Regions from separate parts of the Homo sapiens genome. Here region 1 is linked to region 2. A link means that fine-mapping ties the variant in region 2 to the expression of a gene that starts in the linked region. Tissue or cell type: spleen. Region 2 holds a variant in brackets; the other region holds the start of a gene. All regions are shown on one strand. Distances are between the middles of the regions.

What was found. PIP is the estimated chance that this variant, and not a neighbour inherited with it, causes the effect.
Region 1: it holds the start of INO80B, and the variant in region 2 is fine-mapped to the expression of INO80B in spleen (GTEx, PIP 0.96).

What each region holds. Positions count from the first base shown.
Region 1 is chr2:74,453,452-74,456,097 of GRCh38, forward strand. INO80B (INO80 complex subunit B) reads left to right here and starts at 1,636. Exons shown (of 5, transcript NM_031288.4): 1 at 1,636-1,723; 2 at 1,955-2,147; 3 at 2,367-2,485. The coding sequence starts at 1,666. INO80B-WBP1 (INO80B-WBP1 readthrough (NMD candidate)) reads left to right here and starts at 1,572. Exons shown (of 8, transcript NR_037849.1): 1 at 1,572-1,723; 2 at 1,955-2,147; 3 at 2,367-2,485. RefSeq lists an enhancer at 1,150-1,739.
Region 2 is chr2:74,512,090-74,514,933 of GRCh38, forward strand. TLX2 (T cell leukemia homeobox 2) reads left to right here and starts at 2,361. Exons shown (of 3, transcript NM_016170.5): 1 at 2,361-2,844. The coding sequence starts at 2,718. RefSeq lists an enhancer at 679-1,347 and silencers at 1,222-1,281, 2,319-2,418. The variant C/T (reference allele first, on the strand shown) is at 1,745.

The sequences.
Region 1 (2,646 bases), 59 kb before region 2:
GTATCATGAGTTCTTGATTTCCTTTATTCCTTGAAAGAGCCCTCATAGCGGTGGATCCTACTGTATTCCATCTTATAGAGCTGGATTCTCAGGTTCAGAGAGCTTAAATAATTTTAGGCCCAAGGTTGCATAGCTAATAAATGGTGAAACTGGGATTTGATAATAGGCTTGTCTGACTCCAAAATCCCTTTTCATAATCACATACTACATGACTTAATCCTGGATTCCCCAATATAATTGCTCATTGATTCTTGATAATTTTATCACTGAAATGTAAGAGACTTTTCACTGCTGTTACCTTGCTCAGACACTCATATATATTTAGATATATGTATATAGGTGTTATTTTCTAATTATAAACGTGATATATATTGGCTGTAAGAAAATACATTACATACCTAAATAGTGAAAGTTCCTCAACCCCAACTTCTACAGTTAACCAACATTAACAGGTATACATTCCTCAATTTTTTCTATGTATTTGCTAGTATATTATGCTTTTAAAAATCAGATCACATAATCTTGAAATTTACTTTTTTTTTTTTTTCTTTTTTTTGAGACGGAGTCCCGCTCTGTCGACCAGGCTGGAGTGCAGTGGCGCGATCTCGGCTCACTGCGACCTCCACCTCCCGGGTTCAAGCGATTCTCCTGCCTCAGCCTCCCGAGTAGCTGGGACTACAGGCGCGTGCCATCACGCCGGCTAATTTTTTTTTTTTTTTTTGTATTTTTAGTAGAGACGGGGTTTCATCGTATTAGCCAGGATGGGAAATTTACTTTTCTTATTTCGTGTATCAGCACATACAAACCTACCTGTTTTTATGTCTTTTTTAAAATGAGGTAAAATATACACGTTTTATACAAAATTCAAAAGGCACAAGAGGGTATAATCATAAAAAAATAGGTCGCCATCCACCCTTGTTCTCTAGATGCTCATCAGCAAATGACTCTTACCAATTTCCTAGATAGCCTTCTGGGGCGCCTCATTTCTTTTCCAAGCTGCTTAACATCCCACTGTATGGATACACCAATTCATCAGGACACTTAGATTGTTTAAATTCTGTGTCAATCTCATTAATTACTTACAACTCAACTTTTCTTAGCAATATGGTGTTCCGCATTGTACAGCTGCACCGTAATTCATTTATTCATTTCCCTACTTATGAAAATTGAAGTTTAAATACCTAAACTGCATCTGCTCTTAGGGCACTCGTGCTGTTTAACCATTTCGGCCATTTTGTCATCAATATAGTTTATGTATTCCTCCACCCAACTGTGAGTTCCTCAAGGACAGGGGCGGTGTTCATATTCATCTTTGCATCCTCTTAGACTAGCTTCCCGCACTTGGTCTAGTGTATACATTCACCAAACTTGTGTTCAATAATTGACTCATCCGCGCTGAGTTCTGAAAGCTAGCGTGGGGAGGCGGAGCCAGGGGAAAGCCCTGCCCATTTGGGCTGTCCCGACCTCAGAGGGACCGGAACGTTCGTTGGAAGGATCCTCGTTTCTCAGGGACGATTTTGGACGCGAAGCGTGCCCCGCACAAGGATGGTTGCCATGAACCGGAAGTAACTGGTTGTTTTGCTGGCTCCAGTTTTTCCGCGGGGCGGAAAAGGCGTGTCTGCGTGTGTCCCAACCATTTCTAGTCCCCTTTCCTCGCAGGACCTCATGAGTAAGCTGTGGCGGCGTGGGAGCACCTCTGGGGCTATGGAGGCCCCTGAGCCGGGTAAGCGCGAATAGATCAAGCAATTTAGGTCGTGTTAGAAAAGAAGTCCCGTTCTTGCTCCTCGGAGAGTCCAGGGTACTTCGGCCACAGGTGGCAAGGAGAAAGGCGGTGCTGTTGTTATGGTAACAGCGAGTACTGCGGGAAGGGTGGGATCCAGTAGGGGCTTAGGTTATTCAGGGCTTCCCCTGCCACCCTCCGGCCAAACACTGTCGACAGGCTTTCCTTCCACAGGAGAAGCCCTGGAGTTGAGCCTGGCGGGTGCCCATGGCCATGGAGTGCACAAGAAAAAACACAAGAAGCACAAGAAGAAACACAAGAAGAAACACCATCAGGAAGAAGACGCCGGGCCCACGCAGCCGTCCCCTGCCAAGCCTCAGCTCAAACTCAAAATCAAGCTTGGGGGACAAGTCCTGGGGACCAAGAGGTGAGGCCAAGAGGGTCATAGTTTTATAAGGGGAACTTTAGGAGCAGAGATAGTAGTTAGAAGCCGACTGGGCTTTCTAGAAGACCGAATGGACACTGTGACTTCAGGGTCCAGATTTAGGCAGCAAGAGTCTAAGAGGGTGGGGAAAGTTGGGTGTAGCTACGGAGTAGGAGGAGGAGACGCTTGCTCATTTTAAAGAGTAGTGTTGCTTCTCTGCAGTGTTCCTACCTTCACTGTGATCCCAGAGGGGCCTCGCTCACCCTCTCCCCTTATGGTTGTGGATAATGAAGAGGAACCTATGGAAGGAGTCCCCCTTGAGCAGTACCGTGCCTGGCTGGGTGAGGATCTGGAGGTGGGGAAACTGGGTTTCTTATTATACCCGCCTAAAGAAAGAAGGTTGGTTCTGAAATGGGTTAGGATTTTCCATGTCCCAGTATTAACTCAGCCAAATTAGGGTGCCCCATCTGAACAATTCTGTTTTTCTTTCTCCAACTTCCTT
Region 2 (2,844 bases):
ATAGAGACGGGGTTTCACCATGTTGGCCAGGCTGGTCTTGAACTCCTGACATCAGGTGATCCGTCCCCTCTTGGCATTCCAAAGTGGTGGGATTACAGGCATGAGCCACTGCTCCCGGCCTGAAGATTTGGACTAAACAGGTTCATGCTTCCTTGTAGCCCTCTCTACTGCTGAGAAAAGTGCATGGGTTTCTGTAAAGAGACGGGAGGTGATAATGTCTGTCTTCTCCATCAAGATGAAAATACATCTGCTAAATTGGTAGGAGCCCCCACCCTCTTTCAGAACGGGCTGTTAGCAGGGCTGAGGAGGGGCTGGACAAATTGGATAGTAGAGTGGTCAAGGTGGGGGAGGTTGACACTTTTTTTTTTTTTTCAGACAGAGTCTTGCTGTGTTGCCCAGGCTGGAGTGCAGTGGCGCGATCTCGGCTCACTGCAAGCTCCACCTCCCGGGTTCATGCCATTCTCCTGCCTCAGCCTCCCAAGTAGCTGGGACTACAGGCACCCGCCACCACGCCCAGCTAATTTTTGTATTTTTAGTAGAGATGGGTTTCACCGTGTTAGCCAGGATGGTCTCAATCTCCTGACCTCGTGATCCACCCGCCTCGGCCTCCCAAAGTGCTGGTATTACAGGCGTGAGCCACCGCGCCTGGCAGGTTGACACATATTAATGCCCACTATTCCTCCCACTGCCCTCTGTCCCATTTATGGTTCACCTCCTCTAGATATAAGGCTTCAGAGAACACTGAAGGGCTGGTGGACAGAGCTCACCCTTCTTTCTCTTCTTTATCTTTCTGCCCAGATGCCCAAATATCATTCCTGGTTCCCAGGGGAGAAAAGACCCCTTCACCCTGCCCCAGGCGCCAGGCTGCCAGCCCATCTGCTGGGGAGAAAGGAGGGGGCAGAGTCTTTCCCAGGGGATCCTGGAGAATCAGTTTGAAGATCAGTGCTCCCAGGGAGATCCAGCTAGTAGACTTACAAAGCATTTCGGTTCACACGGGAACCAGCAGGATGGAGCTGAACAGCGGGGTGGGCTCGGGACGAGGGTAGAGGGCTGGCACAGCAGGGTAAGGTCCTTTGGCCACCACGTGTCAGAGGTAGGCTGAGCTGCTCGTTGGTGCCCACCCGCCACCGCCACCGCAGGATGGTAGAAGCGCCCCCCTCTCTGAGCCCAGTCTCACCGGCTCAGAGGCGCCAGGGCCCCCCCGGGGGCCGGGGCGGGCCGGGGAAGGTAATGTAATTCCGGCCCAGCTAACCCGATTACCGCGGCCTGCACCGGGCAGGGCGGCGGCGGGGGCGGGTCTAAGGCTCAGGGGCCCGCCCGCGGGGGTCCCATCCCCGGGAAGGACGCAGAGTTCACGCACTCCCGGCTCCTGGATTCATGGCCAGAGGTCACAAGGTCACCAAGCGGCTTAGGTCTTTCCCCACCTCCCTTCTCTGACAGCTCCAGGCCATTTTTTGAGTTTGGGTGGGGTAAAATGTTTATGGGAAACAAGGCGGCCAGGATCCAACCAAGGCCTCAGTGAGGTCCCACGTGTCCCCCGTGGCGAGATTTCGCCCTCCCGCCGTTGAGGAGGAAGAGTGTGAGAACAGACTTCCTAGGCACAGAATGGAGGGGCAGAGTCCTGCATTGAGGACTCCCTGCACTTGGGGTCCGGGGGTAAGTGCCAGCCCCAAGAACCCGCCGGCCTGATTTGGCCCGGGTTGAGCCATGGTCCGTTTTACACGGATTTTGGAAAATCGAAATT[C/T]TAGGAAACACAGGACACCAATTACCGGTGCGCATGAACAGGGCTGGGGGGACCTACAGGAGAGGCCAGAAGGCGCACCACGATCGCCAGCCCAAAGCGGCCGTTCCCCGCCCTTAGCCCCTGCCGTCCCCTTCCCACACCTGTTCTCTTCCTGGGCCTGCAGCTCACCGGGCGCCGTTCCCCAGCCGCTTCTTACGCAGCCGGGAAACCACAACGAGATTTGGTCTTCGAGAGCATTTAGGCGGGGACCACAACGAATCCGGGAGTTGGCCAGAAGGATCCATCGAGAGGCGAAGAGTGGGGGCTGGGGGAGGAGGCACCTGCGGAGGAAGCCGGTGAGGCGGAGGCAGCCCAAAGGCGGAGGCCGCCCAAAGGCGGAGGCCAGCAAGGATGGAGGCGCGGTGAGCATCTCCGCTGACTCAGCGGCCCATGCTCGGGCCCCTCCCGCGCTGAGCCTGGCTCCTAACACCCTGGCCCCCTGTCCCCCTCCCCGCACATCTCCGCCAGCCAGCCTTCCCCCTGCGCTTGGCGCAAACAGGCGTCCCTTCCCCTTTAACTGCTGGGCCCCGCCCCTGCCCTACCCCCAGCCCCCACTACCCACCCGGGCCGATCCGTCAGTCACTGCCCCAGCCGGAGCTGGCCAACCCTCTCCACCCGGGACTTGGGCAGCGGCGCCGGCAGCCCAGCGTCTATTTGCGCTTAAGAGCCAGCAAGGAAGCTCCAGGGGCCCCAGCTGGCCGTGCTCCCCCGGGATGCAAGTCCCTGCGCTGACGCCCGGCAGCGGCTGGCACGGGCGCGGCTGCTCCGGGTGCACAGGGATGCTGCTGTTTCGGGGACCCCGGCGCCCTGCCTTGGCCAGCCCCGCGGGCCCCTGAGGCCACTCTCCGGAGCGCGCCGCCGCTGGGCTTCTGGCGCTGCCTGAGGCATCCTCCCCAACCACCGAACCTCCGGCGGTTCTCCTCGGCCCAGACCGATGGAGCCGGGGATGCTGGGTCCACACAACCTCCCACACCACGAGCCAATCAGCTTCGGCATCGATCAGATCCTGAGCGGCCCCGAAACCCCAGGGGGCGGTCTAGGCCTGGGTCGCGGGGGCCAGG